Linked DNA regions of Homo sapiens. The protein of the gene in region 2 purifies or fractionates together with the protein of the main gene of each other region. This does not show direct contact. Each region holds a gene or a part of one and is shown on either strand. Other genes may lie near its edges. The genes, in order: EZR, PHLPP2, USP1, RDX, PRKCB, DMWD and RPS6KB1.

Region 1 (4,345 bases), on a different chromosome or scaffold from region 2:
ATAAAAAGATTAGTCAGGTGTGGTAGTGAGCGCCTGCGGTCCCCCAGGAGTTCAAGGCTGTGGTGAGCTATGATTGTACCACTGCACTCGTGCTTGAGCAACAGAGCAAGACCGCATCTCAAAAACACAAAAACAACACCTATCCTCTTGCTTTGCTGCCAGAAAAGACAAAAAGCACAAATAAACAAGCACCTGACAGCGTTATAGGTGGAGACCGAGTTCTATGAGTGCAGTAAAGTGGGGCACGGCACAGAGATGGAGCTGTACTTTAGACAGGGTGTTCTGAATCAGGAATGGACTTACAAAACATCTGCAGTCAGAAATTCACATACAGACTATAGTAGATCAAAAGCTCATTTTAAACTATCAATGAGGAAAAAAGCAATTCATTTACATAACATTCTCTTTCCAACTCAAACATCAGGTACAAATTGCTTTCTTTTAGCATATGCCAGAAATCTGTCATTACACAATAGCTTAGCAAGTGTGACACAAGATACTGCCACTTTCTCTACACAAAGACCCACCCAAACACCAGCTTTGTTTAAAACATTACCTCAGCACCACGATGCCTCTCCTCAGTAGTTTCTGAGTCCATGCTCAGAGTCCATGATGTGCTCAACATTGGCTAACAAAACACATTCTGTTCTTTGAGAACAATTTTTTAAAAACTGGAACCAATGGGGTGGATCTGCTTCCAAATATTAGTCCAGCCATAAAATATATACAAGGTTAGAATAAATGCTTAACAATAATTATTTTTATGCTAGAAGCAGGAGTTGGTCCATTTGTTTCTCTAAAGAGCCAGCCAGTAAGTATTTTAGGCTTTGAGGGTCTTACTTGGAGTCCGTTGCATATTGTTGTTTTTAAAATCCTTCAAAAATATAAAAACCATTTTTAGCTGGGAGACCAAATAAAAACAGGCCACAGCCAGACTCGGCCCTAAGATGATAGTTTACCTACCCCATCCTAAAGTAAAAACAATTATTTACAGTATCTGAAATGACAACTGTCCACACAGGCAGTTTAAAATTGATCTCTCAGGCAAAAATGGAAAACAAAATTAGGTTGCAGAAGTGACTTCTAACTTAAAAATATGAGCAAAATCTGATATACTGACTACTAGAGTTTGATCCTCAGGTGATACTGGTTCCTCTCCTATCAATAAAAGGTGGGTCATGGTGAGATATTTTTTATTTTGCTTTTAAGGTTTTGTTTTCAAGTATATTAGATTAAAAGGATAACTTAATGAAGTTTTACATTTCCTTTGAAACAGCATTACTGTTTGCCTGTAAGTGTTAAGAACGGGTTAATGAATAAAGGAAAACAGAACTGACCACTGCTGACTGGGAAGCCCACATCCCTCCACACTTACCCAAAGGATCTTACCAGCCGGGAGGCCCTCCCTGGTCTCCAGGGCACACTTCTCTTCTGTGAAGACCTCTATCATGCACTACACTGCATTGTAATTGCTTACATATCTGCTTTCACTAGGAGACTGAGAACTCCTTAAAGGCAAAACCAATCTTATTTTTATTGTCCCTGCACCAAGCACATAATGGGATATAATAGCGCTTCAAAACATGAAGGTGGTACCCATGTGACTGATAAGGGAATTCCGACTAGAACACACAGAGAGAGGATGGACATGAGACAAAATCAGAGTCCTCCCTTTTACTAAGATAACCCAAACTGTTCATATTGCTTTTTCCTTGAGAAGACCAATGGACAAACTTTACCCGTTTATAGGAACCCAGAGTTTTTACCTAACAGGGTTAAGTTTGAAAAACATTTGCGGGGTAGGGAAACACAAAAGAAACACATAAAGCTTACAGCATCTTAAGATGAGTTGTTTGGATTTCACTGATAAAAACTTTGTCTCCGTTTATCTTATGTAACATTCTTTCCACTTAAAAACTAACTCCCATTTTACGGCTGACGAAATTTAGGTTCACAGATGCTAAATGGCTTCCCCAAATACAGGTAAGCAGTAAATTAGCTATGAAATTCTCTTTATAGCTCTTTGTGGTTTCATTTTGAAAAAAATTATGTGTATTAACTATATCAAGCATTTCAGTCAAAAGTCTCTAAGTCACATTATAGCACAAGGGTTTTGTTTGGTTCTGAAAACTACCCAAGTCTGGAAAAATCTTTTTATGTCAACAGGCATGGATGGTAAATACATCAGAAGGAAAATAATGCAAACTTTGGTCTTTTCAACACACATTTACTGCTGAAATTAAAAACTAATTGGAGTACTTGGGGAGTCTCAAGGTAGTTACTACTGAAATGAAATAAGGGATAATTCAAAATGCATTCACTGACTTTGAAAGCAGACTGAATTTCACTGCTTCAGAATAGAGCTGAAACATCTAACTACCATTAGAAAGCAGACTGAATTTCACTGCTTCAGAATAGAGCTGAAACATCTAACTACCATTAGAAAGCAGGTATATCAAACCACCCTAAGAATCTCCAAATTGTCAAAGAGATATAAAAGTTTAAGTTAAAAAAATTAAGAAAAAAATTATAGTTCACTAAATGATACTGTTTTCCTTTCCCAAACTATAATTATTCAACATTTGTTAGAAATCACATTATCAGCCAGGCATGGTGGCTCACACCTATAATCTCAACATTTTGGAAGGCCAAGGTAGGAGGATAGCTTGAGCTCAGGAATTTGAGACTAGCCGCCTGGGCCACACAGTGAGATCTTGTTTCACAAAAAAATAAAAAATTAGCTGGGTGTGGTAGTGTGTGCCTGTGGTCCCAGTTACCCAGGAGGCTGAGGTGGGAAGATCACTTGAGCCAAGGGTGGGGGCCGGGGCACTGAGGCTGCAGTGAGCTGTGACTGTGCCACTGCACTCCAGCCTGGGTGACAGAGTGAGACCCTGTTTCCAAAAAAAAAAAATTCACATTATTTCATTAACAAAAGAGGCCAGTGTGGAAGGAATAAAAGAGGAACAAGGAATGGGATCTCTTACTTCCCTACCATTTATAGGGAAGGTCTAGCCTCTTTTTTTCTCTTTGAAAACAAAGAGCCAAAATGTGAGAGACCACTGGGCACTGCCAAATGAAGCTGTTACTGGACTCCCTGCAGAGAGAAACTCAAGTCAGAAGAATATTATGTTGAATGGCCTGCCCAAGTATAGGTAAGCAGTAAATTAGCTATGAAATTCTTGTTTTTATGGCTCTTTTTCACAGAGTCATCCTAGCCCCTATTCGAGTCCCAAATACCAATAACAGCACTCCTGGCATTTCAGCCGGACTGTAAGGCGGCTGGGCATCAAGTGACTGCTTTCACCCAAATGGGTGCTCTGAAATCACACTGGGCTTGATTGGGGTGCAGGAGAAAGGAATATATAATAACTGCCCTTTTCCTATTGAATCAGCAGTACCATCTGGAGAGCTTATTTAAAACATAAGCACCCAGCCTGCACCTCACCCTAGAGATGGAAGTCATTAGTTCTTCAAGGGACCCAGGAATCAACAGTCTCCAGACAATTGTGTACACAAAATTTTGAGAACACTGCACTAAATTAACCCTTCCTCTTAACTTTAGGTATGTACGGTGTGTACATATACTAGGGAAAACAAAAAGCTACTGAATTATTTGGATTTAAAAATAACGTAGTTTAAGGAGTCTGGTCCTTTAATATTTTGGGGGGCAGTGGATGTAGTAATGAAAGAAGGCAAGGACTTTTTTCATCAACGATTGTCACAAACTTATTAACATGTAACAACAAATCCAGACTCCCCACCTTCCCCCACACCTGGTCCTTCTCCAGGATTACTTACCTCAGCGATGGCACCACCACACATCCACTTGCGCAAGCCAGAAACGAGAAGTCAGCCTCGACACCACCCTTGGCCCTGCATATCCAACCCATCACCAGGCACTATCAATTCTACCTCCCAAAGAACTCTCAAATGCATCCACTTCTGTTCCCACCACCACCACCTTGGTCCAAGCTATGAGCTCCCTCAATGGTCTACCATAACTACCCTTGCTGTCTCCTGCCTCCTGTGATTTTCCTATTACAGATCACAGTCAACTTTTCAAAAGGCAAATCTGATCATGTCACCTCCCAGTCAAAACCCCAAGTTAAACTAAAAAACACCCAAGAATGGCTTACAAGGCATGGCCTGACCTGTCTTCCTCTCTAGCCACATTGGGCTTCATGTGAAACCCCAAACTCACACTACTTCCTCCCACCACAGGGCCTTTGCACACGTTGTTACCTCTGCCCAGGGAGGTCACGTCCTCAAGGATGCCTTCCTGACCTCCCCTATTTGCACCCCCACCAGCACATACACACTTCATCTACTCTCAGGCCTCATGTAC
Region 2 (4,345 bases):
TAGGTCACTGACTGCTTGGACAATCTTATGAAAGCTGACCACCTTCCTCCTCAAAATGTACAACCACATATATATACACACACAACATTTTGCACATAAATTCTGGGCTTCCCAGATCCTCAGCAGCCTTTGGATTCAACAGAGAAAACAGATGACCCCCACAGGCTTTTGAAAGAGCCGAAGTCCCCGCACTCCATGCTCATATAGAGAATGATCATAGAAGACAACAACGTGAGTTCTCTCCTTGATCCTGTATCCATAATTTAGACCCTGACCTTCTGGTTTAGAAAAATATATTTTCCAAAAGTAGAACTGAGTTAGGGATTTTTCAACCCACCTGCTTACCTGTGAGATACCAAGAAGGTGTTAGCCATGAAAACTGTGTCATTAGTTGACTGCTGTACCTCTTCTAAAAGCACATCTGCCATCGTACACTGCAGCAGGCGCGGGAGCTCCTCATTTCGGTCTCCATCAAACATGCCATACACAGCTCCCACCCCCTCTGCAAAGCTATCCATAGCAAGTGCTGAGACACACAGCCTATAATAGAAACATGAAAACAGAAAACAGAAAAGTTACTGGTAAAATATTATTCTCCAGGGAGCATTCTTTTTTTTTTTTTTTTTGAGAGGGAGTCTTGCACTGTCACCCAGGCTGGAGTGCAGTGGCATGATCTTGCCTCACTGCAAGCTCCACCTCCCAGGTTCACGCCATTCTCCTGCCTCAGCCTCCCGAGAAGCTGGGACTACAGGTGCCTGCCACCACGCTGGGCTAATTTTTTTGTATTTTTAGTAGAGATGTTAGCCAGGATGGTCTTGATCTCCTGACCTCATGATCCGCCCACCTTGGCCTCCCAAAGTCCTGGGATTACAGGTGTGAGCCACCGCGCCTGGCCAGGAGCATTCTTTTAAAAAGTAAGTATTAATTAAAGGTGGCAAAGACTACTAGCAAATCGTAATCTACACGTAAGAAAAGTCCCTAGACATGATAATTAAGCAACATCTGAAAGAGCTAATGTCCTAAGGAAAGGGGAAACAGTCGCATTCATGGGCAGTACATATTAGCTTTGCAATGCTGCCAAAGGCTGGTAAGATAAAGCACTTTCTCTTAGTAGTGACTAAGGATTAGCTTTGTCAAGGCCTATCAGTCAAAGACCACCAGAGCACACCTATGGTTGAAAAAGTTGAGTTTATTACCCCTTATAGCAAATGAGAGTGCACCCCATGGAACCCCGGGGTATACAGGTAAGTCTTGCTGAAAAGAACCCAGTATAGGGTTTGGACTTTGGTTTGGTCACTTTGGGGAGGGTCTAAGGAAGAGGATCATACTAGACTGGGTGTCATCAGAAAGTGAGGCCATTCTATTGCTGGGTATAAAACTTATCTATAGGGAAGGAAAATTAGCAGAAGGATAAAGCTGTAACTGGTAAAGAAAGTAGCATCTACCCATCTTAGCCATGAAAGGGGGTGTTTGGTATTCTGTTGACTACACATTAGTATTGTTTTTGTCTTAAAACGTTATCATGATCCCAAAGGGATCTTATCTGACGCTGATGTTCTATGATTTGTCTGTGTACAACAGAACAACATGGCCTAGCTATTATGAGCATCAGGCCAGTTCTCAGATGCCAGGGGCTGCCTTTTTTCTTTCTCAGTCTCCATGGCCAATATACTCACTTATTTCTCTGCCCTGCCATCTCAGCCAGTCCATGGCTCCAGAAGGTTGACGTAACTGTAGAATCTGTGGTTGGCAAAGGTTTCTGATCAATTTTCAGGGTTGTGATATGGCTGTGGGAGGTGAAGGAAGATTAAACCATATATTCTTCTGTATTTTACAAAAACTATCCCAACAATAGTATTCTTTTTTTTTTTTTGAGATGGAGTCTCCCTCTTGTCACCCAGGCTGGAGTGCAGTGGTGTGACCTCAGCTCACTGCAACTGCTGCCTCCCGGTTCAAGCAATTCTCCTGCCTCAGCCTCCTAAGCAGCTGAGATTACAGGTGTATGCCACCATGCCCGGCTAATTTTTGTATTTCTTTATTTTATTCTATTTTATTTATTTATTTTTTTGAGACGATCTCCCTCTGTTGCCCAGGCTGGAGTGCAGTGGCGCAATCTCGGCTCACTGCAACCTTCGCTTCCTGAGTTCAAACGATTCTCCTGCCTCAACCTCCCAAGTAGCTGGGATTACAGGCACCTGCCGTAACAACCAGCTAATTTCTGTATTTTTAGTAGAGACGGGGTTTCACCATGTTGGCCAGGCTGGTCTCGAACTCCTGACCTCAAGTGATCCGCCCGCCTCGGCCTCCCAAAGTGCTGGGATTACAGGTGTGAGCCACCGCTCCCGGCTAATTTTTGTATTTTTAATAGGGATGGAGTTTTGTCATGTTGACCAGGCTGGTCTCAAACTCCTGACCTCAGGTGATCCACCCACCTTGGCCCCTCAAAGTGCTGGAATTACAGGCGTGAGCCACCACGCCCGGCCAACAATAATATTATCTTTTTTTTTTTCTCTTTTTTGAGAAGGAGTCTCGCTGTGTCGCCCAGGCTGGAGTGCAGTGGCGTGATCTCTGCTCATTACAAGCTCCGCCTCCCGGGTTCACGCCATTCTCCTGCCTCAGCCTCCTGAGTAGCTGGGACTACAGGCGCCCGCCACCTCGCCCGGCTAATTTTTTGTATTTTTAGTAGAGACGGGGTTTCACCATGCTAGCCAGGATGGTCTCGATCTCCTGACCTCGTGATCCACCCACCTTGGCCTCCCAAAGTGCTGGGATTACAGGCGTGAGCCACCGCACACGGCCAATAATATTATCTTTTAATAAAATAATCTATGGACTGACTAAGATTCATTTCCAGAGAGACTGATGAAAGTAGTATGCTGAACTACTGGCAAAGAAGGAGGGGAGAGAAAGGAAAGGGGTAGGAGGATCAAAGGGGTAGGAGTTTCAATAAAAAACTAAGCACAACAAAGATTTCTATGTTTTAGCCAACCATCTATTTATGTTAAGTATTTTGATACAATGAAGTCTTGGTACAATGGATGAACTTGTATTGTCTCTTAGATATTATATAATCTGTGCCACCTAAAACATCTATGCCTGTTGTGAAAATATTCAGTATGTTGGGGGGTAGTAGCCATGGAGTAGTCCTAATATAAACAGGTTGACTACTGGATAGAACATCTATTCATAACTTAATCAAAGAAGAGAACCTAGGGGCTTTATAGCCTAACTTCATTCTGTTCTTTTAATTAATCAAGATCTCCACAGTACTAAGGAAGACCTACACATGGCTGGTGGGCTAAGAGCACATAGAGATTCCATTTCAAATTTTTTCCTACCTAAATATGTCCAGTGTCTTGTGTTCCAGAACCAGATTTGTATTTCCAGTCAGGTCAAGGTCTTGTAATGTAGCAGGCAAAGCCTCTGGAATCAGGATTTCTGTCAAGTCGTTGCAACTTAGGTCTACAAACTAAGAAAAAATTGAGAAATCAAAAGAAAATACATCACAGAGACTTAGTTCTTTACTCCCAAGTGTCCAATCTCTTACTATATCCCCAAAGAGGAACTTAATTTCTTCCCAGGAATCCATTACATAAATTCTGGTCCCAAACTGGAGCACATAAGAAGACAATAATATTTTTCCTTATAAGAATAATCTCATTCACACTCCTTTCTTCTTCTTTATAAAAGGAAAATAATGTCATTCACTCTCCTGCCATTTCCCCCAATAAGGACATCATTCCAGCACACAGAAGTACCTGGATCTGAGGCAACTGCAGTATTTCTGGGAAAATGCTGATGTTGTTGGAGTGTGCAACAAGGGTGTGCAGCCTTTTACAGTTTGCTATGGTTGTGGGAATGGTTTTAAGCTTGTTGCCACTTAGGTTCAGTTCCTCCAATTGCTCCAATTTATTTAGTTTGCTGAAAAAGAAACAACAGAATACTATAATGCACCAAGACTGAGCAGCTGCCAAGGAAGTGCTATTCTACAGCAGCCACAGAGTACAGAAGGCCGACACGGTCCACTGCCAGATGACTGGTGAGAAATGAAACCGATACCAGGAATACCAGGAAAGGCAATGGCTCAAGAAGATAACTACTCCTGCTATAACTAAGCCTGATCTGCCTCAGTGTGTTTCAAGGGCTGTTGGATCTTGTGGGCAGGAACATCTTCCTGTTACCTAATGTACAAAAAGTGGCTAGAAAAGGAGTGGCCTCAAGTTGGGGGATTAGTCTTGATGCTTGCTTTACCACTAACTAGCGGCAAAATACTAAGTAAGTCAATGTCAGCAGTCTTTAATACCCTCAGCTGTAAAAAATGAAAAATGAGGTTGTACTAAATCAT
Region 3 (3,473 bases), on a different chromosome or scaffold from region 2:
CCCAAAGTGCTAGGATTACAGGTGTGAGCCACCCACGCCCAGCCCATTTTAGTCATTTTTAGTGTGAAGTTTTTCTCTACCAAAATTTGGGAAAGTAAATAAAATAGTATTTTATACTATTAGCAAAGGGAAGGTCCACTGAATAAGGGGCTATATGTTATCTTTTGACATAATCAAGTGTGAGAGAGCTACTGTGAAGCCCTCGTGGTAATTTCAAACAAGCAACTAATGTACAAAGGAGTCACACATACAATGACATTACACATGTCAGAAAAAAACAGACTATCCAAAACAATCAGCATTTTTTTTCAAACTGTTGAAAGACTAGTTTGATTTCCTGGCTTACCTTAAAACTAGGAAGAATTTAGCCTTTCCCGCCCCTTCAAAAAAATCTTGATGTATACAAAATTTGTTCCCTGCTTTAGTCAGTTCTACTGAATTCTGCTACTAACATCTAAGAGGGAATGAATATGAAAAGATGAATAAAGAAACTGGCCGGGCATGGTGGCTCACGCCTGTAATCCCAGCACTTTGTGAGGCTAAGGCAGGTGGATTGCTTGAGTCCAGAAGTTCAAGATCAGACTGGGCAACATGGTGAAATCCTGTCTCTACTAAAAATACAAAAAATTAGCTGGGCATGGTGGCATGCACCTGTAGTCCCAGCTACTCAGAAGGCTGAGGTGGGAGAACCACCTGAGCCTGGGAGGTCAAGACTGCAGTGAGCTGAGGCTGTGCCACTACACTCCAGCCTGGACAACTGGAATGAGACCCTGTTTCAAAAAAAAAAGGAGAAGAAATCATACTTAATAGAATATGTATTCATATCAAAAGGATTTAAGTTGTTTCATTTTTACAGGGAAACTGTTAATAAGAACAAAACTTTACTGAAGCAATCTTTACAATCTACTTCATTTCAGTACTTTATATTCCTACTATTACAGCATTTTGAACAAGACTTATCTTCTACAGCAGCTCATTTTCTTCATATAGTTCTTATTTACAATACTTACTCCAAACCACTAGCAGCAAAGCACTTCAAATGAATAGTTATAACTTCAGGCATTTTGTCAAACAAAAGACTTCGTTCAGCTTCAGTATAATGATGGCAGTTTTCACAGAAATATTTATCTTCTCCTACAATCCTTTCTACTGAAGCAAATTGTGAAATTGCCCATCTCAGGGTCTTCATTTCTGTTTTTGGCTCTGGAGAAACTAAAAAAGAGAATCCTTTCACTCAAATACTTCTCTCAGGCATTCAAAAAATAAACCACAAAGTTTCAGGTTCAAAATTAGCATTTAATTTCAATTGACCGACCCATTCCTAAATAACTAAAGAGATTTTTACTTTCAGAAACTACTTTCATAAGTGCATCCTCAACAGTATACATACCTTTTAAATATATTTGATCGGCCAAAAAATATGATAGACAGCAAAAACAAAATAAGCCTAGTCTGTTTACATTTAATTGCCAACTTTCAATATGTGATAGGTAAACCTGTCTCATGATTATTTCCTATGGTATTTCCATATTTTGTGGTATGCTCTAGACACAACAGTGGCTCAATTATTGTGTTAAAAACAACCTCAGTAGGCCAGGCGCGGTGGCTCACGCCTGTAATCCCAGCACTTTGGGAGGCCAAGGCGGGCGGATCACGAGGTCAGGAGATTGAGACCATCCTGGCTAACATGGTGAAACCCCGTCTCTACTAAAAATACAAAAAATTAGCCGGGCGTGGTGGTGGGCACCTGCAGTCCCAGCTACTCAGGAGGCTGAGGCAGGAGAATGGCATGAACCCAGAAGGCGGAGCTTGCAGTGAGCCGAGATCACGCCACTGCACTCCAGCCTGGGCAACCGAGCAAGACTCCATCTCAAAAAAATTAAAAAAAACCCTCAGTAGCTCTGAAAGACTCAGGTTCCCAAAAGTACACTTATTAAAGCATTTCAGTTTTCCATTCTAACACACTCTACATCAAAATCAAGATGTCACAATTTCCCAAATGCTAACCATTTATAAGTGAAGCCAGATAAGCAGAAAGGTTACATTAGACACTAAAAGCTAGCTTTTTTCCCCTCCCTAATTACACCAGCTACTATTAAACTTTGTGTTGTTAAAGAATTATAAATATTCCATCATGGTCCACACAAGACTCCAATTTTGCTTACTTTCAGAACTCTCCTCTACTTTGGAAAGCTCATCTTCTTGTACTGGCACACTGATGTCTTGAAAATCTTCTCTTCTTTCTGTTAAACTTTCACATTCCAAGCAACGCGTCCTTAATACCAGCTGACCTTGAAATAATTTCTCCACTAGCTCAAAACCAATTTGTTCTTCACCTAAAATGAAAATAGGAAAATGTAAGTCTATACAGATTAGTTTCTCATTATAGTCCAAATAACCAATTTTCCATTTAAATAAAGTATATCATGAATAACAGTTCCATTTTCATAGATCAGCTTATTAGCATTATTAGCTTATTAGAGGTACCCTATTAATGAAATTTAAGGTCCCTGTAAAGATAAAACTGACTATGAAATTACTGTCTTTAAAAGAAGTCAGTTGTAGGCCGGGCACAGTGGCTTAAGCCTGTAATCCCAAGACTTTGGGAGGCTGAGGCGGGCAGATCACCTGAGGTCGGAGTTCAAGACCAGCCTGACCAACATGGAGAAACCCTGTCTCCAGTAAAAATACAAAATTAGCCGGGTGTGGTGGTGCATGCCTGTAATCACAGCTACTCGGGAGGCTGAGGCAGGAGGATCGCTTGAACCCGGGAGGTGGAGGTTGCAGTGAGCCAAGATCATGCCATTGCACTCTAGCCTGGGCAACAAGAGCAAAACTCTGTCTCCAAAAAAATAAAAAAAATAAAAAATAAAAAAAAGTCAGTTGTATTGTAACTCCCTTCCTACAGACACCTCCCCATAGAATAAACCCAGAATAAGGATGACATTTTTGGTAAAACTATTCACTATATCAATATTACACATTTTCCCTGATATCTGTAGATCTGGACAAAACTAGGTAAAAATCTAGTTCAAGTATCGTGTAACTTACAGTTATGCACCACCTACCAACGTTTCAATTATTTAACAATGGACCGCATATGACAGTAGTCTATGATTATTTTTACTGTACCTATGTTTACATATCTATGCTTAGATACGTCTTAGATACACAAATACCATTGTGCTACAGTTGCCTACAGTATTCAGTAGTTATATGCTATACAGGTTTGTTGCCTAGGAGCAATAGGCCATGCAAAGCTTGCCTGTAGCCCGTAACAAATTCATAAACTTTCTTAAAACATTATGAGACTTTTTTGATTTTTTTTTTTTTGGCTCATCAGCTATCATTAGTGTATTCTGTGTGGTGTGGCCCAAGACACTTCTTCCAGTGTGGCCCAAGGAAGCCAAAAGATTAGATACCCTGGTCTATACCATATAGGCTAGTTGTGTAGTACGCTCTAGCATCTAGTT
Region 4 (4,345 bases), on a different chromosome or scaffold from region 2:
AAAAATACTAATGGTGAGTTAACTAGATATTAAGTGTCTTCTGATATGATACAACCTGAAATATCTAACATCACCAATTATTTGGGTGATCATATTATCTTGGTTTACCTGGAAAAGTCCTGTTACACTGTTGTCCTGGTGTAATTATGAACAATACCCCCTTTTTCTCAAAAGTACTCCAGTTTAGATGTTCAATTATATGGAAGTCTCACCTTTGATGCACTGTAGTCAAAACATTTAATTTGAATTCCCCAGGTTCTAGATCTAACTTCTGGTTCAAAGGAAATACTGGAGTTAAAGGATAAGGTCAATGACACAAGGAAGTAACTAAACAAATATAGGAGGTGAGACATTCTGTAGGTCCCTTCAATAAATCAAAATAATAAAAAGAGAAACTGCCCTCCATTAAAAGAGACTTACAGCAAATACAGACAATGCAAAGTCCTCTGAACACTTGTCTGGCAAATTAGCTATGAGACTTTTTGGGAAATTCTTAATATAGTCTAATATTCTGAGATGAAAATTGACTAAAATGAAATAGTACATACAGTAAGATTTCATGTTGAATATATAAACAGGAAGTATCCTGGAAGAATATGTACTAAGGTTTTGCAGTATTTCCCCTAGTTTATGGGAATACAATTGTCTTTTGTGTGCATTTTCTAATTTTCTATAATTCACAGACTTGATATCTGTAATATGCTAATTTTTTAAAGTTTATGTGTCTCTAAATTTCATAAATCATCCCTAAAAGGGATCTAAAAAATTCTAATAAACAAGTAGAGTAACTGGGAAATTAACAGTAGCATTCCTTTTGTAGTTTTATTTATATATAACTAATTTTCAATACATATAAAATTACCCAATGAAATTTAAACTGCTACAAAGATTTACTTAAGAGTGCAAGAAAACTGTTTTCTGTATAAGTACATTTTATTGTAGAAAAATCATCTTCTAAAACTAAATATCATCTTTGGGGGTAAAAAAATTATCTTTTCAGTTAAGAGTTAATGTTGTTTGAATTAAACTCTCATTATCTTATATTCCCCCACTCTCCAACCAAAGCCTGATTTTACAATTGTGTGCTACTTTAGACAACAGTGGTTTCATCTACTTAGGACTCATATTAGAAATCTCGGTGTCAGCTGCACACAGTGGCTTACACCTACAATCCCAGCACTTTGGGGGCTGAGATGGGAGGGCTGCTTGAGGCCAGCAGTTCAAGACCAACCTGGGTTACACAGCAAGACCTCCATTCTCAACAAAAATAAAAATGATGGTGCATGCCTGTAGTCTCGGCTACTGCAGAGGCTGAGGTGGGAGGATCCCTTGAGCCCAGGAGTTCAAAGCTGCAATGAATTATGATTGTGCCACTGCACTCCAGCCTGGGACACAGAGTAAGACCATGTCTCTAAAAAAATAAAAATAATTCAACTTCATATCCAATCACTGGTTCCCATGCCTTTTTGTGACCACAAAATGTCTCTTATATCTTCCCATTCCTCTTTATTCTCATTTTCACATCCTCAGTTTGGGTCTTTATCTCTTAAGTATCCACTATCCCAATCCTTTCTTCACACTGATCACTACATGGTTTTTATAAAATCATATCTGATCATGTTACAATCCTGTTTTGAAATCTTCTAAGCCCCAAGTCAATCGATACTCCCACTGCCTTGCTGTAGCAGAGCATTTATTTAAAGCCTTTCACAATTCCCTATTATCAAACTTGAGGGCCACATCTCCTAACATTTCTGAACAACACTAAGCCTCGGCTGCTTATTGGTTATCCTCAAATCTATTATATACATTCATACTTCCTATACTCATTCAGTTCCCTCTGTCTAGAATGACTACTTCTTCAGTCTCTAACTATTCCCAATTTTACATCCCAATCTTTTGTACCCCCAAAATTTAATTCATTATTCAAGACCCAGCTTAAATGTATATGGGTCTCCCGACAACTCTCTGGTCCCCCAGAAATTAATCACCTCTTCTGTGTTCCCAAAGTACTTGGTTTATATCTGTAGATAGATATTTACAATACACATAACACGAGTATCTTTCCCACTCTAAATTATGACAGTATCTTACACTTATCACTACAAAGTCAGCATAATCCTGGGTATAAAAGCTATTCAATAAAAGCTAGTAAATGAATAAATGATTACTTTGTGTTGCCACTCAGTAGCTTCCTCTTCCTTTTTCTTCTTGGCTTCCTCTAGAAGTGCAATCTTGGCAGTGAATTCAGCAAGTTCTGCTGCCTAAAGTAAACAATATAATTCCAAAATTAAAATAACATATTTTGAATAATCTTATAAGTCAACAAAGTTTTAATGCACATGCTTAGGCTGTTTATGTTTTTCTTAGCCTTCCATTTAAAAAAATACAGTATTTCTTAAGATCTTAAATAGCTTATTTACAATAAGTCCTTTAGGTAATGAGCTAAGGAGACAAAATTAAAAAATTACTATTATTCTACAGACTAGTTAATCCTGCTTTCAGTAGCAGGAACTTAAAATGTGTAACTTAAAAGCTTTTTTAAAAAATTTCCATCAATAAACTATTTGTTAAAGTCCACAAAAGATAAAATATTTATCTAATGCTATATACTTTAAATGGCACTTTGTCAAATCATCTCATTTAATACCCCAATAATCCTAACAGGTAGTATCATTAACAGGTAGTATCATTCCTCCTTTTTTTTTTTTCAGACAGAGTCTCGTTCTGTCACCCAGGCTGGAGCCCAGTGGCACAATCTCAGCTCACCGCAACCTCCGCCTGCCAGGTTCAAGCAATACTCCTGCTTCAGCCTCCCGAGTAGCTGGGATTACAGGCGTGCACCACTGTGCCTGGCTAATTTTGTATTTTTAGTAGAGACAGGGTTTCGCCATGTTGGTCAGGGTGGTCTTGAACTCCTGACCTCAGGTGATCCACCTGCCTCGGCCTCCCAAAATGCTGGGATTACAGGCGTGAGCCACTGTGCCCGGCCATCATTCCTCTTTTCAAAGGGAGGGAACTGAGGCTCAGAAAGACCCAAAGACACATACATAGCAAGTACATGTGTGAACTAATATTTAAATCCAGGATCTTTTAAGTGACACGCTTACATCTAATTATTTGCAAGTCCACTAAATAAAAAAACCCAACCAATTATGGCCTCATAGGAACTATAACATATTATATATCTATAATATATTATATAACTATAACATATATCTATATTATATAACTATAACATATTAATTTATCTAAAGCAAAAGACGCCAACTGACTTATTACCGAACCTGTCCAATGTCAAAGTGAATCAGAACCTTTTGCTGACAGTAGACTCCATTTACAAATAATCTATAGAAAAATGCCTTATTCTTTTGTATTTTTAGGTTTTTGTTTAGGCAGAAATAAATTTTCTAGGTTTTTGTCTACATTTTGTTATTAAGTTACATGTTATCTTTGGCTTGCTCTCCAGAAAGCACAAAATGGTTGCTTTTCTTTTTTTCTTTTTTAGAGGGTTCACTCTATGCTTTTATTTAAACTTTTTTCTCTAAGAAGACAGTTCCTTACTAGCTGCTCCTGATTCTTCATCTGGTCGGCAGCTTGTTTTGCTATGGCAGACTTTGCCTCTTCAGCAGCTCGACGCTCCTTTTCAAGTCGTTCTGCTTCTTCTTTTGCTCGTTTTCGTTCTTGATCCAGTTCTAGAGCTTTTCGAGTCTGTTCTTCTAGTTCTATGAAATATGTGTATTCCCCCCAACAGTGATTAATTCCAATCATTCTCATTATCAAAAGAAGCTAAAATAGTAGCAAGAAATCAAATCTGTTCAATTTCTAAAAGTTAGCACACATGTAAATACATATATACCTCTTTGTTTTCTTGAGACAGGGTCTCGCTCTGTTGCCCAGGCTGAAGTGCAGAAGCTCACTGCAGCCTCGAACTCATGGGCTCGAGCAATCCTCCCGCCTCAGCCTCCCAAGTAGCTAGGACTACAGGCGCTATACCTCGTTTCCAACTTGGCAAAAGCCTAATAATTTTTAAAGAGAAATGAAAATCTTCTGCAATTCAAGTTATGTAAAAAGGCTACAAGCACGTAACTATTTTATTTTTAAAAAATAATCTCTCCATCTGAAGTTTTGACCTCAGTAAACAAATTGCCATGTTTCAGAAATCTATAATACATTTCAAAACTTCCATTAAGGTTTTACTTATCTAAACTAATAAGTAAATCCAAGAAATTAAGATTGAAAACAGTATTTACTGACCCCAAAATAGGAATTTTGATGTGATTATATGAATTATTGAAAAATGTGAGTTATTGGTATATATTCATTCCTAAAGCATGAAGATAAG
Region 5 (4,345 bases), about 48 Mb from region 2:
GTCATGTGAGACAAGTAAAATAAAAAGAAAGAGGGGCAAGGGAGTTGAGGGTCTTTCCAAAGGAGTAGCTAAAATGCACCATAAAATTGAATCTGGATATGAATGGAGTAAAAGCAAGAGGGAATAGGGAGATCAAGAGAATGTGTTGGGTTCGAGGGACTGATTGGTGGAGAATGGACTGACGAATAGGGGAAGATTTATTGCAGTAGAATAATAGAACTAATGAATTGGAAAAATAGAAATTGGTGTAAGATAGTAGGGTACTTGAAACTGAGATTGAGAAAGTGGTATAATTTCTGGGATAATAGGCTCCAGAGCGTGACCATGGTAGGAGATAACTATGATTGGGGGTGAGCAAAGGTTGCAGGAAATGAGGGGGTGCTTTCTCTCCTACTTTCCAATATTCTTTCTTCTAATCTGTTTTTCTTGTTATCTTGAGTTTACAAAATTTCTGGTTTTATTTATGCTGTGGATATTTTTCCAGCCTTTTCCCTATGGGCTGTCTGGGTGCAGGTTATGGGTGATACATGGATAATAGGTGCATCTTGGTTTAGAGGGTAACTCTTTATTTCTTACTGCACTTATGGAACACGAGAAAAAAAAGTATTAAATAATGGCTATGGTAATGGATATCTTTGTCTTATTCCTTACTTTAATGGAATTGCATTTATCATGAACCATGGTGCTGTTATTTCAGATAGCCTTTATCCTGTTAAAATTCTCTGCTGTTTCTAGATAACTACAATGATCTTATGGTTTTCTTCTTTGATCTATAAATATGATGAATATATTGAAAATAGATTTCCTAAGATTGAACCATCTTTGCATTCCTGATAGGAGTCATTATGTATTCACCTTTTAGCAGATAGTTAGAGTCGATTTGGATTGAATGTATTACTGTGGATTGTTCTACTGTAAGTGAGATGATTGACATTGTATCCTTAAGAGCTGTGCAATTCTCATTTTCTAGTCTGCTTCCATTGACTACCTGCATTACTGGTTTCTGAATTGATTCCTAATTAACTACTTCCTGTTTCTCCAAGCTGATGATTTAGTCTCCCTCATCCTTTCTATAGCCAGTTGCATCTTCACTGCTGATTCCCTGCCTCCTTTTCTCCTGTAAGTTCATCTTTTTTTTTTGACGGAGTCTCACTCTGTCGCCCAGGCTGGAGTGCAGTGGCATGATCTTGGCTCACTGCAAGCTCTGCCTCCTGGGTTCATGCCATTCTCCTGCCTGGGCCTCCCAAGTAGGTGGGACCACAGGCACCTGCCACCATGCCTGGCTAATTTTTTTGTATTGTTAGTAGAGACAGGGTTTCACCATGTTAGCCTTATAGCCTCTTTACCTGGGTGTTCTGGAGTCAGGGTGGAGCTGAGCTCTAATGCTGCTGACATTGTTCCAGCCTTCTCTCTATGGGCTGTCTGGGTGCTGGTTATGGGTGATACATGGATAATAGGTGTACCTTGGTTTAGAGGGTAATTCTTCCTTTCTTTAGCTTTTTCTTTTTGAATGGAGGTAAAATTAACGTAACATAAAATTAACCATTAACTGTTTTTAAACGTACAATTCAGTGACATTTATAGAATATTCACAGTGTTGGACAACCATCATCTCTATCTAGTTCTCAGAAATTTTCATCACCTCTAAAAGAAACCCTGTACTCATTAAGCAGTCACTCCCCATTTCCCTTTCCCTCCAGCCTCTGGCAACTATTAATAGTAGTCTACTTTCTGTCTCTATGGATTTACCTGTTTGGGATGTTTCATGTAAATGGAATCATACAATATGTGACCTTTTGTGTTGGGGTACACAAATGTTCATAGCAGCAGTATTCACAACAGCCAAAAAGTGGAAACAACCCAACTATGCATCAACTGCTGAATGGATAAACAAAATGTGGGATATCTATACAATGGAATATTATTCAGTCATGCAAAAAAATGAAGTGCTGATACATGCTATAATGTGGTGAACTTTGAAAACGTTATGCTAAATGAAAGAAGCCAGCCTTTCCTGTGGGCTTTGTGGAAAATAAGCTTAGAAAACTTACAGTTAATCTTGGTATGGGAAGAGCAGTGTAAAAGTCAGAAATCCATTTTTAACCAACACAGACCAGAGTTGACATCTTATCAGCCCATCTCATTTTGTGCACTGCTTCAGCTATGGATGTTAATAAAATTAAATTTCTCACTAAACAAGTGTGATGCCAAAGAACCTTCCACAAGTTCTGCAGCTGTCACTGCTTGGTGCTTAAACATGTTGGACAGTATTAATGCAAAAACTGCTTTTTCTTTTTCAGTAAGAGATGCTAAAAACCTTGTACCTATGGACCCCAATGGCCTGTCAGATCCCTACGTAAAACTGAAACTGATTCCCGATCCCAAAAGTGAGAGCAAACAGAAGACCAAAACCATCAAATGCTCCCTCAACCCTGAGTGGAATGAGACATTTAGATTGTAAGTGGAAATGACTGCAGTGAGCATGGGTGGTGGAGGTTGGGTTATGTGCCACCTGAAATCAGGGAGTTCCTCCTCCCTTAGCTCCTGTTTCCTTCCTTCCCTACCTCCCTCCTTTTCTGTCTTCTCCATCCCTCACTCCTATCTTTCCCTCCCTTCTTTTCCATCTGCAATTTTGTATTGTGAGCCAAGAAAAAAAATTAGAGCTATTTTTTTAATAGAGATGAGAATGCCTGTGGTGTGGGGGAGTGGGTAGGACAGGAAATGGTGTGATGTGTTGCTAAGTGAAGGCAAGTTGTGGGAGAAATGATGGGGCTCAGCAAATAGGGGAACATAACCTACAGGGTGTGGTGACAGCCTCTCTAGAGTTGGGTTTATGGATGATGCTTGGCCTGCAGCCTTCTGGGACATCTCCACCAGCCTCCCTTGAGGGTCTTCCCTGGCCAGGGCTCCAAGAATCTGGGAGTCTCTTTCTTGTACATCTAGGCATCAGGAGTTGGTTATAACAGCCAATTCACTGAGCATATATGATGTGTGACAAACACTGGGTTAAGCGATCCGACTTCATCGGCTCATTTTATTCCCAATGTAGCAATAGGGCTTATAGAGGTTAAAGAGTATGCCCAAAGTCCCATAGCAAATATGGGGTGGAGTGGGATTCAGCTTCTGGCAGTCTGACTTTAGCGGTCATACTTTTTTAGCCACCAGCTAGAAGCACAGTTCCTTGTCCTGTCTCCTCTTCCCTCTCTCAGGGCAAAGCTGGGCCCCTTCTCAGCCTCAGTCAAGGACATGTCTCAGAACAGACAATTTCCCCAGGATTTTTCTCCATGCATTTCCTCAGCCTCATTCTCAACCCACCTGTGTGCAGATATACACATGTACACACCCAATTATGCAATTGATATCTGTATTTCTTATAGGCAATAGGAATTCCTGAATATCCTGAACCCTATTAAGACATAAGATAACAAAAGTAGTTAGAACTGTTCTTGTCATAGCCAGTCTAAGACCTCTGCCTGTTTAAGCCACAGGCTGTCAAACAGAAAAAGCTCTCACTCCCTGGAGAGCTAGCCTGGGATGGAAACTGAATATGTTTCTTTCAGCAGCTTGTAATCTTTAAAACTTTCTACCTCCAGGTCTTGTCCTCTTGTACATTTATTCTGCTTGAGAAATTACTACAACCTCCACTGATGTCTTTTCTTTTTCTCTATGCAGTCAGCTGAAAGAATCGGACAAAGACAGAAGACTGTCAGTAGAGATTTGGGATTGGGATTTGACCAGCAGGAATGACTTCATGGGATCTTTGTCCTTTGGGATTTCTGAACTTCAGAAAGCCAGTGTTGATGGCTGGTAAGTAAGATTTTGCCTTGAAAGCTACCATACAGCTTGCTCCATCAAACGCGGGGTCAAGTATGTTTTCCTTTTTCTCCAAAAATTGAAATACTAAAACAGAGTCCCAAAGTGAAGTCTGGTTGATTGGATCTGCCTTGCAGATATGTTTTGTTTGGTCCTTGTACTAAAAACAAAAAAGAAAGAGGCCAGGCCTCGTGTCTGACACCTGTCATCCCAGCACTCTGGGAGGCCGAGGCAGGTAGATCACTTGAGCTCAGGAGTTTAAGACCAGTCTGGGCAACATGGTGAAACCCCATCTCTATCAAAAACATGAAAAATTAGCTGGGCATGGTGGTGTGTGCCTGTAGTTCCAGCTACTCAGGAGGCTGAGATGGGAGGATCACTTGAACCCTGGAGGCAGAGGTTGCAGTGAGCAAGGTGGTCAGAGATTGAGCCACTGCACTCCAGCCTGGGTGACAGAGTGATAAAAAAGAAAGAGAGAGAGAGAGAAGGAATGAAGGAAGGGAGGGAGGAAGGAAGGAAGGAAGGAAGGAAG
Region 6 (4,345 bases), on a different chromosome or scaffold from region 2:
TTGTGCTCCTTCTCTGCCCCCCGGTCCCGCCGCTCCTGCAGTGTGAGCGTGGCGAAGCGGCCAATGCTGAATGGTGTGCCAGGCTCTGCCGCCACACCCGGGCCGCCCGCCTTGCCCCCGCCAGCTGGGTGCGGGAGACTGTTGGAGCGGGACAGCGAGCGAGGCAGGGGGCCTGGGCCAGGCTCGCCACCCCTCGAGCTGCTGGCGGCCGGTGGCGTGGTGCCAGGTGTGCCAGGGAGGGTGCGGGTGCGGGCCAGGGGGGGGTGCGGGTAGAGCACGTCTTCAGTGAGGTCCCACAGGCAGAACTGCGTGTCCTGGCCCGCCGAGCCAAAGCGGTAAGTAATGGAGCCAGCCTTGGGCAGTGGAGAGAGCGGGGCGCCCCCGGCCGAGCCTGTGCCCGCAGCCTCGGGCTCCTCCTCCTCCTCTTCGCCGCTCCGCTCCCCATCAGCACCGGCTGCTGTCGCCGCCTCCTCTGCCCTTGTGGTGTAGGGGTCAAAGGCCACAGCGTTGACCCAGGACTTGTGGCCATGGCCTCGAGCCACCACGCGGCCCTCGGTGAAGGACCACACGGTGACCAGGTCATCTTCGCCACCCGTCACCACGTAGCGGCCGTCAGGGCTCCAGCACACACACAGCAGGCCCCCAAAGTAGCTCTTCATGAGCCCACGCAGGAGCATGGAGTCGAAGTGGAAGACGCGCAGGCAGCCATCCTGGCTCACACAGGCCAGGTGCCGGCCATCGGGCGAGAAGGCGAACTCGTTGAGGGGCCCCTCACCCACCGCCCACTTGGCCAGCGGGTTGCGGGGTGCCTTGCTCTTGGCAGCATAGACAGAGAAGCCCTCGCCCTGCTTCAGCAGGCTGTACTGGGGCGGGGCCGAGGCGCAGGGGTGGCTGACGTTGTACAGGTACAGGTGGCCACTGGCGTGTGATGCCAGGAACAGGCTCTCCGACTCAGGCAGCCACTTCAGATATGTCACCTTGGTCTTGTCGATCAACCGCTGCCAGGGGAGACAGTGTGGGGTTGGGAGAAGGCAGTAAAACCCAGGCAGAACTTCTCCCCGACCCAAAGTCCCCAAGAAGGCCGTTGGACATGGCCCCGCTCACACAGCAGGTGCCACACCAGGCCCAGGTCCTCCTCGGAGAGAAGCTCCCAAACTGGGGAAGACAGATGGACACCAGGTCATGGAAACATGGGGAAACAGAGGCTGCTGCAAGGTGGCCACAGGGTGCTCCAAGGAGCCTCGATGTCCCATCTTTGGCGAGGGGACAGTCCTGCTTGCCACAGAATTGTCCTGTATCTCGGGGTCCTCAACCTCCGGGCCATGGAACAGTAGTGGTCCGTGGCCTGTTAGGAACCAGGCCATGCAGCAGGAGGTGAGTGGTGGGCGAGCAGGCATTACAGCCTGAGCCCAGCCTCCTACCGGAGCAGCGCACCATTCAATCCTCGTAAGAGTGCGAACCCCACCATGAACTATGCATGCGAGGGATCTAGGTGTGCGCTCCTTATTAGAATCTAACACCTGATGATCAGAGGCAGAACGGTTTCATCCCAAAACCATCCCCCCAACAGTCTGTGGAAAAACTGTCTTCCATAAGACCAGTCCCTGGTGCCAAAATGGTTGGGGACCACTGTATCTGTCTAACCCTCCCCCGATCTTTACTACGTCAGGCTTCAAGTAGGAAATTTCTTCACGGAAAGGCAGCTCCCCAAAGGAAGCGATCTTTGTTTGGTTCACTATTCTTTAAAGCAGTGCACACAGGAGGCAGCTTGAAGGTAATTCCTGGACAAATGAGTGACAACCCCCCATCCCGCTAGGTGCTTAGACAAAAAACCTCGGCATCTGCCCCTCTTTTCCTCATCCAATCCTTCCACAAATCCTGTGGGCTCGACCTTCAAAATACACCCAGAAGTGGCTGGGCGTGGTGGCTCACGCCTGTAATCCCAGCACTTTGGGAGGCTGAGGCAGGCGGATCACAAAGTCAGGAGTTCCAGACCAGCCTAGCCAATATGGTGAAATACAAGTAGAGATACAAAATCTCTACTAAAAATACAAAAATTAGCCAGGCATGGTGGCGGGCGCCTATAGTCCCAGCTACTCAGGAGGCTGAGGCAGAATTGCTTGAACCCGGGAGGCGGAGGTTGCAGTGAGGGGAGATCATGCCACTGTACTCCAGCCTGGGCGACAGAGCGAGACTCCACCTCAAAATAAAAAAAAAAGAAAAAATACACCCAGAATCTGACCTCCTCTCACCATCCCATTCAACCACCCCAAGCCTGCAATGCTGTGTGACTGGCCTCAGGCTCCAATGCCTGGGCCTGTCTGTCCTCTGCAGCCGCCACAGCGATGCTCTGTGAAGTATCAGCCAGCACCTGGCACTGTCCTGCTCTGAACACTTCGCAGCCTCTCTCAAGCAGGGTTCCAGAGCCTGAGGCCCTAATGCTCTCAGGCAGCCAGTGTATGCAACTAAGGAGCTGCTCTCCCAGGATGAGGTGCCTCCCATCCCTGGGAGAACTGAACAAATAATCACTCTAGTCACTTCTGCCTTCCAGGGCTCAGGTGAGCCCCAATGAGAAAGGCTCCTCCACAGGCTTCCAACTAAGAGTAAGGCAAAATCTCTCCGTGACCTTCCAGACTCTCCATGAGCCAGCCCCTCCGTTATTTCTTGGAACTCATCTACCATCTTCTCTCCCTCAGTAACTGCACTGGCCACACGGCTTCTGTGCAATCCTGCATTTGTCCTAGCTGGCCCCGATACTCAGAATGTCCTTCTTGGCTGGGTGTGATGGCTCACGCCTATAATCCCAGCGCTTTGGGAGGCCAAAGCAGGAGAATAGCTTGAGCCCAGGAGTTCGAGACCAGCTTGGGCAACACAAAGAGACCCCGCCTCTACAAAAAATACAAAAGTTAGCCAGTTGTGGTGGTGCATGCATGTAGTCCCAGCTACTCAGGAGGCTGATATGGGAGGACTGCTTGAGCCTGGGAGGCGGAGGTTGCAGTGAACGAAGATCGTACCACTGCACTCCAGCATGGACGACAGAGTGAGACCCTATCTCAGGAAAAAAAAAAAAAAAAATGCCCTTCCCCAGGCAACTCTTCTCACCTGCCTCCTTCAGGTCTTTATTTCAGTATCACCTCTTAGTGAGGGCTTTCCTGACCACCCTACTAAACTCTCCAAGCTTCCCTCAGCCCCTTCCCCACTGCTTCTTCTAAACAGGCCTTAATCACCTGCTGACACACGAAGACTTAACTTGATTAACTGTCTGTCTCCCCAGCTAGACTGAAAGCTCCAAAAGGGCAGGGCCTCCTGTCCAGGGCCCTGAGATGTGATATCCCTAGTGCTGGGAACGGTGCCTGGCACAGAACGGATGCTCAAAAACTATTTGTGAATGGATGAGCTAATGAATTTTTAATCCACTGACTGTTCCGTTCACTCCCTTCAGCCATTCACTCATTCTGAGAATATTTATGGAACACCTCCTCTGGACCAGAGAGAATGAGACAGAAGCCAAGAGCAGTCCCTGCCCGCGGATAAGGTCGTTTACTGGTATCTCCTCGTAGGCCAAGTTGGCCCAGGACTGAGCAATCTCCATGTATGATTCTACAACAGCGGTCCTGCAAGGTAGGAACTGGAATCCCATTTTGCAGAGGAGGAGAAGTGAGGCTCAGAGAATGGTCACCTTCCCAAAGTCACATGATGAGTAAATGGTGCAGCAGGGCTTTGAATCCAAAGCCTCCAGAGCCCAGAACTCAAAGAGCAAGGGCATCAACTAAGTCCCGACTTATTTACTAGCCTCAATTCTCTAATCTGCAAAATGGGCAGCACACTTCTGTATCCACTGGTTGATGAAAACTCAAAGAATGGCCGGGCGCGGTGGCTCATGCCTGTAATCCCAGCACTTCGGGAGGCCGAGGTGGGCGGATCACAAGGTCAGGTGTTTGAGACCAGCCTGGCCAACATGGTGAAACCCCATCTCTACCAAAAATACAAAAATTGGCCGGGTGTGGTGGCTCACGCCTTTAATTCCAGCACTTTGGGAGGCCGAGGCGGGCAGATCACGAGGTCAGGAGATCGAGACTATCCTGACTAACACGGTGAAATCCCGTCTCTACTAAAAATACAAAAAAATTAGCTGGGCGTGGTGCTGGGCGCCTGTAGTCCCAGCTGCTGGGGAGGCTGAGACAGAAGAATGGCGTGAACCCGGGAGGCAGAGGTTGCAGTGAGCCGAGATCGCGCCACTGCACTCCAGCCTGGGCGACAGAGCGAGACTCCATCTCAAAAAAAAAAATTAGCCAGGTATGATAGTGCGCACCTGTAGTCCCAGCTACTCAGGAGGCTGAGGCAG
Region 7 (4,345 bases), on a different chromosome or scaffold from region 2:
AGAATTCTACAGGACAAATGACCCAGTTTCTTCAATAAATCACAAGGGGAATCTATAAATGAAAAGAGACCTAAGAGACATAGTAACCAAACTATATACAGACCTTGATTAAATCCTTACAAACAGGAGAAAAAAAAAATGGAAAAACAACAACAACAAAAAAAATTAGGTGGGGCAACACAGGGAGACCTCATCTCTAGAAAAAATTTAAAAATTAGCTGGATGTGGTGATGCATCCCTGTGGCCCCAGCTATACGGGAGGAGCCCTTGAGCCTGGGAGGTTGAGGCTGCCATGAGCCACTATCATGCCACTGCACTCCAGCCTGGGCAACAGAGAAAGACCCTATCCCCCCCCCAAAAAAAAAAAAAAGAAAGAAAAGAAAAAGGAAAAAAAAAAAAAAACAACTAAGGAAACTGTCAACTTCTGAGGTGTGATGATGGGATGGCAGTTATGTTTAAACAAGATGACCTAATCATTTTTTAAGCTGGGCAGTAGGTATATGACAGTTAACTTCCTTACAATTGTTTGTTGTTTTTTAAAGTGGGGACATTATGCTCCATGACCAAAAAATAATCACCATCATCATCCTCCTCCTTCTCCAACTACATCCTAAGGAATGGAAAAAGAAACTGTATTTTCTCAGATTCTGAGGTGGGAGAAGGACAATAACTAACACACTAACTGATTTACTCACAAACATATTGTTATGGGTTGAATCGTGTGCCTTACCCACCCCCAAAAAATTTCGTACATTGAAATTCTAACCTCTAGTTCCTCAGAATGTGACCTTATTTGGAAAGGGTTATTGCAGATGTAATTAGTGAAGATGAGGTCCTACTGGAGTAGAGAGGAACCCTAATCCAATATGCCTGGTATCCTTATAAAAAGGGGAAATTTGGCCACAGATATGCACACAGGTAGAACACCATGTGAACATGAAGGCAGAGATCCGGGTGATGCACCTACAAGCCAAAGAATGACAAAGATTACCAGCAAACCACCAGAAGCCAGGGGAGAGGCATGGAACATACAGTTTCTCACAGTAGTCAAAGAAACCAACTCTAACAATGTGATCTAGAACTTCTAGTCTCCAGATCTATGAGATAATAAATTTCTGTTGTCTAAGCCACCCGGTTTGTGGTACTTTGTTGCAGCAAGCCTAGCAAACGAATGCACACATATTCTATACTTTGAAGAAAAAATTCCCAGAGAATCATATTTAAAATGGTTAAATTAAGCAAAATAAAACAAACCAAAAAAAGGAAAGTCCCAACTACCTGAAATATTTGTCTTAGGTAACTGACTTAAAAATAGCTAATACAGTCAATTGCCACTGGGTTTAGTTCTTTACAAGATAGTACAAAAATAAAAGATGCTTGGCTGGGTGCAGAAGCTCACACCTGTAATCCCAGCACTTTGAGAGGCTGAGGTGGGTGGATCACTTGAGCCCAGGAGTTCAAGACCAGTCTGGGTGACATGGCAAAACCCTATTTCTATAAAAAATACAAAAAAATTAGCTAGGCATGGTGACACGTGTCTGTAGTCGTAGCTATTTGGGAAGCTGAGGTGGGAGAATCACCTGAGCCTGGGGAGGTCAAGGCTGCATTGAACTGTGATCGTGCTGCTGCACTCCATCCTGGGTGACAGAGTGAGACCCCATCTCAAAATAAAATAAAATAAAGATGCTGGAGAGGATAGACCAGAGATCTTTGAACTGCTAATAAAAATAATGTTTCTGTCTGCTCTGAGATTTTTCTTATTCTAAAAAAATATCAAGCGATCCTCCTGCCTCAGCCTTGCAAGTAGCTGGGACTTACAGGCACAAGCCGCCACACCCAGCTAACTTTTAAATGTTTTGTAGATATGGAGTCTTGTTATGTTGCCCATGCTGGTCTTGAACTCCTGGCCTCAAACAATCCTCCCACCTTGGCCCTTTAAAGTTTGGGGATTACAGGCGTGAGCCACTGCACCCAATTATACACTTTCATGTATACTTACCAACAGAGGTTTAAAGGGGGGCTCCACCTTTCGAGCCAGAAGTTCTTCCCAGTTAATGTGTCTAAAGAATGGATGAGCCTAGGAAAAAAAAAGCAGGAAGAAAAGTTGAGGGGACTAGACTTTGCTGGATTGATAAATTAATCACCTTTTTGAAGTTACAAGTCACAAAATAAGCTAAACTTATAAGCAACTACATATAACCCTCAGAAATACATAAAACTAGCATTATCTTCCCCACAAAACACCAAAGATGCCAATCCCTACTTGAACTTCTCCAGCGTCCCCAGGACCAGCTCCCAGACGAGAAGCAGCATTTCTTTTCAGCAGCTTTAAAGAGGAAAAAAAGCTTGGATAAAGAACCTTAGTCAAACTGATTTTTTTTTTTCCTTTTTAGACTGTGCTTGTCTACTTTGGCTTGAGAAAATATAGTTTATTGGCCAGGCACAGTGGCTCATGCCTGTAATCCCAGCACTTTGGGAGGCTGAGGCAGGTGGATCACCTGAGGTTGGGAGTTCGAGGTTGGCCAACATGGTGAAACCCCTTCTCTACTAAAAATACAAAAATTAGCCTGGCGTGGTGGTGAACACCTGTAATCCCAGCTACTAGGGAGACTGAGGCAGGAGAATCACTTGAACCTGGGAGGTGGAGGTTGCAGTGAGAGCCAAGATCATGCCATTGCACTCCAGCCTGGACGACAGAGCAAGACTCCATCTCAGAAAAAAAAGAAAAGAAAAGAAAAGAAAATATAGTTTACTAATTACTACTTAATATTGTTTAAGGGTCTGTAATCCCAGCACTTAGCACTTTGGGAGGCCAGGGCAGGTGGATCACCTGAGGTCAGGAGTTCCAGACCAGACTGACCAACACGGTGAAACCCTGTCTCTACTAAAAATACAAAAATTAGCCGGGCGTGGTGGCGGGTGCCTGTAATCCCAGCTACTTGAGAGGCTGAGGCGGAAGAATCGCTTGAACCTGGGAGACTGAGGTTGCAGTGAGCCAAGATCGCACCACTGCACTCTAGCCTGGGTGACAGGGCAAGACCCTGTCTCAAAAAAAAAAAATTTAAAAAAAGAATATGAAAAGAAAGTCTTTAAACAAATCTGTACTTCGCCTTCAAAAATTGAAGACTTTTTTGTTCAATATTTATATATGACTCTTTATTCAAAATATACATTAAATTCTATCTAGTTAAATCCTAGTCATTGAATCTTGTAGTGTCAGTGACCATTTAAGAACCTTACCTTTTTAAGCAGATCTCTGGCTTCTTGTGTGAGGTAGGGAGGCAAATTGAGTTTACATTTGAGGATTTTGTCAATTGTTTTCTTTCTATTCTCCCCAGTGAATGGGGGCTAAGAGTAGAAGACAAGTGAAAAATATTAGCAGGGAGAGAAAAATATTAGCATATAAGAAACAAATTTTGAATAATATTATCCATTTCCTAAATTAGTTATACATGGAGATCAGAAATGTATGCTGTGAAATGGGCTAACTGCTAAAGACCTTTATTTTGTTTTACAGACAGGGTCTCAACTATGTTGTCAAGGCTAGATTCTATTAATAATCCTTAGCTCAAATGATCCTCCCACCTCAGCCTCCTGAGTAGCTTAGGCTACAGGCATGCACCACTGTGGCCGGCAGACGTGCAGTTTTTAAGCAACAGGACAGAGGAAGTAGCAGTGTCCTGGAAGGAAGCCTGTGTTTCCACCATTAACTTTCTGTGTGATAAGTGAGCTATGTGATTTTATGCTTCAATTTCTCCATTTATAAAATAAGGGCATTATCTATTCAACATCTATTTCACAGGCCTGCCATGACATAGATCATTTAAAAGAAAATGTTTCGGAAAGTATGGGATCCCATATAATCATACAGCATTATTAGTGTTAAACTGCTAATAACAAATCTTTGGGCTTTGAAAACTCCACTGGTAACATGTTCAGAAAGCACAGGACAGGTCTCTTGCTATAGTGACTCAGCACAGACCAATAATACATGCAGCTTTTAACTGTGCACCTACTGCTCCAGTCAGCATGTCATACATTAATGCTCCCAAACTCCACCAATCCACAGCACGATTGTGGCCACTTCTCATCAAGATTTCAGGGGCCCTACAATGAGGAAAATAATATGCTTAAAAATTCACCCATTTGCATATCATCTGAATTAGAATTTTAAAAACAATATACAGAGTCAATGAGGGTACAGAAAACAGATACTATTCCTTAAAACAGGTAAAATTAGCTATTACCCCCAAACCAATTATGTTTAACATGTAGCTCACATGTATTCTATTGTTCCACAAAATGTGTGTGTGACTGTTCCATCATGAATAGATTCTTTGCATAG

The links.
Region 1: the proteins of PHLPP2 (region 2) and EZR purify together in Homo sapiens (affinity purification with mass spectrometry; one large-scale study listed by BioGRID and IntAct). This does not show direct contact.
Region 3: the proteins of PHLPP2 (region 2) and USP1 purify together in Homo sapiens (affinity purification with mass spectrometry; 3 studies listed by BioGRID and IntAct, with this or other methods). This does not show direct contact.
Region 4: the proteins of PHLPP2 (region 2) and RDX purify together in Homo sapiens (affinity purification with mass spectrometry; one large-scale study listed by BioGRID and IntAct). This does not show direct contact.
Region 5: the proteins of PHLPP2 (region 2) and PRKCB purify together in Homo sapiens (co-immunoprecipitation; one study listed by IntAct). This does not show direct contact.
Region 6: the proteins of PHLPP2 (region 2) and DMWD purify together in Homo sapiens (affinity purification with mass spectrometry; one large-scale study listed by BioGRID and IntAct). This does not show direct contact.
Region 7: the proteins of PHLPP2 (region 2) and RPS6KB1 purify together in Homo sapiens (co-immunoprecipitation; one study listed by IntAct). This does not show direct contact.

What each region holds. Positions count from the first base shown.
Region 1 is NC_000006.12:158,808,977-158,813,321, forward strand, and holds part of EZR (ezrin), read right to left. Parts: intron 1-4,345. UniProt on the Homo sapiens protein: Probably involved in connections of major cytoskeletal structures to the plasma membrane. In epithelial cells, required for the formation of microvilli and membrane ruffles on the apical pole. Along with PLEKHG6, required for normal macropinocytosis.
Region 2 is NC_000016.10:71,654,895-71,659,239, forward strand, and holds part of PHLPP2 (PH domain leucine-rich repeat-containing protein phosphatase 2), read right to left. Parts: intron 3,922-4,345; coding exon 3,759-3,921; intron 3,470-3,758; coding exon 3,339-3,469; intron 1,788-3,338; coding exon 1,677-1,787; intron 541-1,676; coding exon 346-540; intron 1-345. UniProt on the Homo sapiens protein: Protein phosphatase involved in regulation of Akt and PKC signaling.
Region 3 is NC_000001.11:62,446,204-62,449,676, reverse strand, and holds part of USP1 (ubiquitin carboxyl-terminal hydrolase 1), read right to left. Parts: intron 2,337-3,473; coding exon 2,166-2,336; intron 1,213-2,165; coding exon 1,011-1,212; intron 1-1,010. UniProt on the Homo sapiens protein: Negative regulator of DNA damage repair which specifically deubiquitinates monoubiquitinated FANCD2. Also involved in PCNA-mediated translesion synthesis (TLS) by deubiquitinating monoubiquitinated PCNA.
Region 4 is NC_000011.10:110,233,928-110,238,272, forward strand, and holds part of RDX (radixin), read right to left. Parts: intron 4,020-4,345; exon of another isoform or gene 3,778-4,019; coding exon of another isoform or gene 3,726-3,777; coding exon 3,565-3,725; intron 2,265-3,564; coding exon 2,172-2,264; intron 1-2,171. UniProt on the Homo sapiens protein: Probably plays a crucial role in the binding of the barbed end of actin filaments to the plasma membrane.
Region 5 is NC_000016.10:24,090,491-24,094,835, forward strand, and holds part of PRKCB (protein kinase C beta type), read left to right. Parts: intron 1-2,300; coding exon 2,301-2,457; intron 2,458-3,672; coding exon 3,673-3,807; intron 3,808-4,345. UniProt on the Homo sapiens protein: Calcium-activated, phospholipid- and diacylglycerol (DAG)-dependent serine/threonine-protein kinase involved in various cellular processes such as regulation of the B-cell receptor (BCR) signalosome, oxidative stress-induced apoptosis, androgen receptor-dependent transcription regulation, insulin signaling and endothelial cells proliferation.
Region 6 is NC_000019.10:45,785,874-45,790,218, forward strand, and holds part of DMWD (dystrophia myotonica WD repeat-containing protein), read right to left. Parts: intron 999-4,345; coding exon 1-998. UniProt on the Homo sapiens protein: Regulator of the deubiquitinating USP12/DMWD/WDR48 complex. Functions as a cofactor that promotes USP12 enzymatic activity.
Region 7 is NC_000017.11:59,934,196-59,938,540, reverse strand, and holds part of RPS6KB1 (ribosomal protein S6 kinase beta-1), read right to left. Parts: coding exon 4,281-4,345; intron 4,108-4,280; coding exon 4,017-4,107; exon of another isoform or gene 4,013-4,016; intron 3,349-4,012; coding exon 3,241-3,348; intron 2,327-3,240; coding exon 2,264-2,326; intron 2,078-2,263; coding exon 2,000-2,077; intron 964-1,999; coding exon of another isoform or gene 915-963; exon of another isoform or gene 767-914; intron 1-766. UniProt on the Homo sapiens protein: Serine/threonine-protein kinase that acts downstream of mTOR signaling in response to growth factors and nutrients to promote cell proliferation, cell growth and cell cycle progression.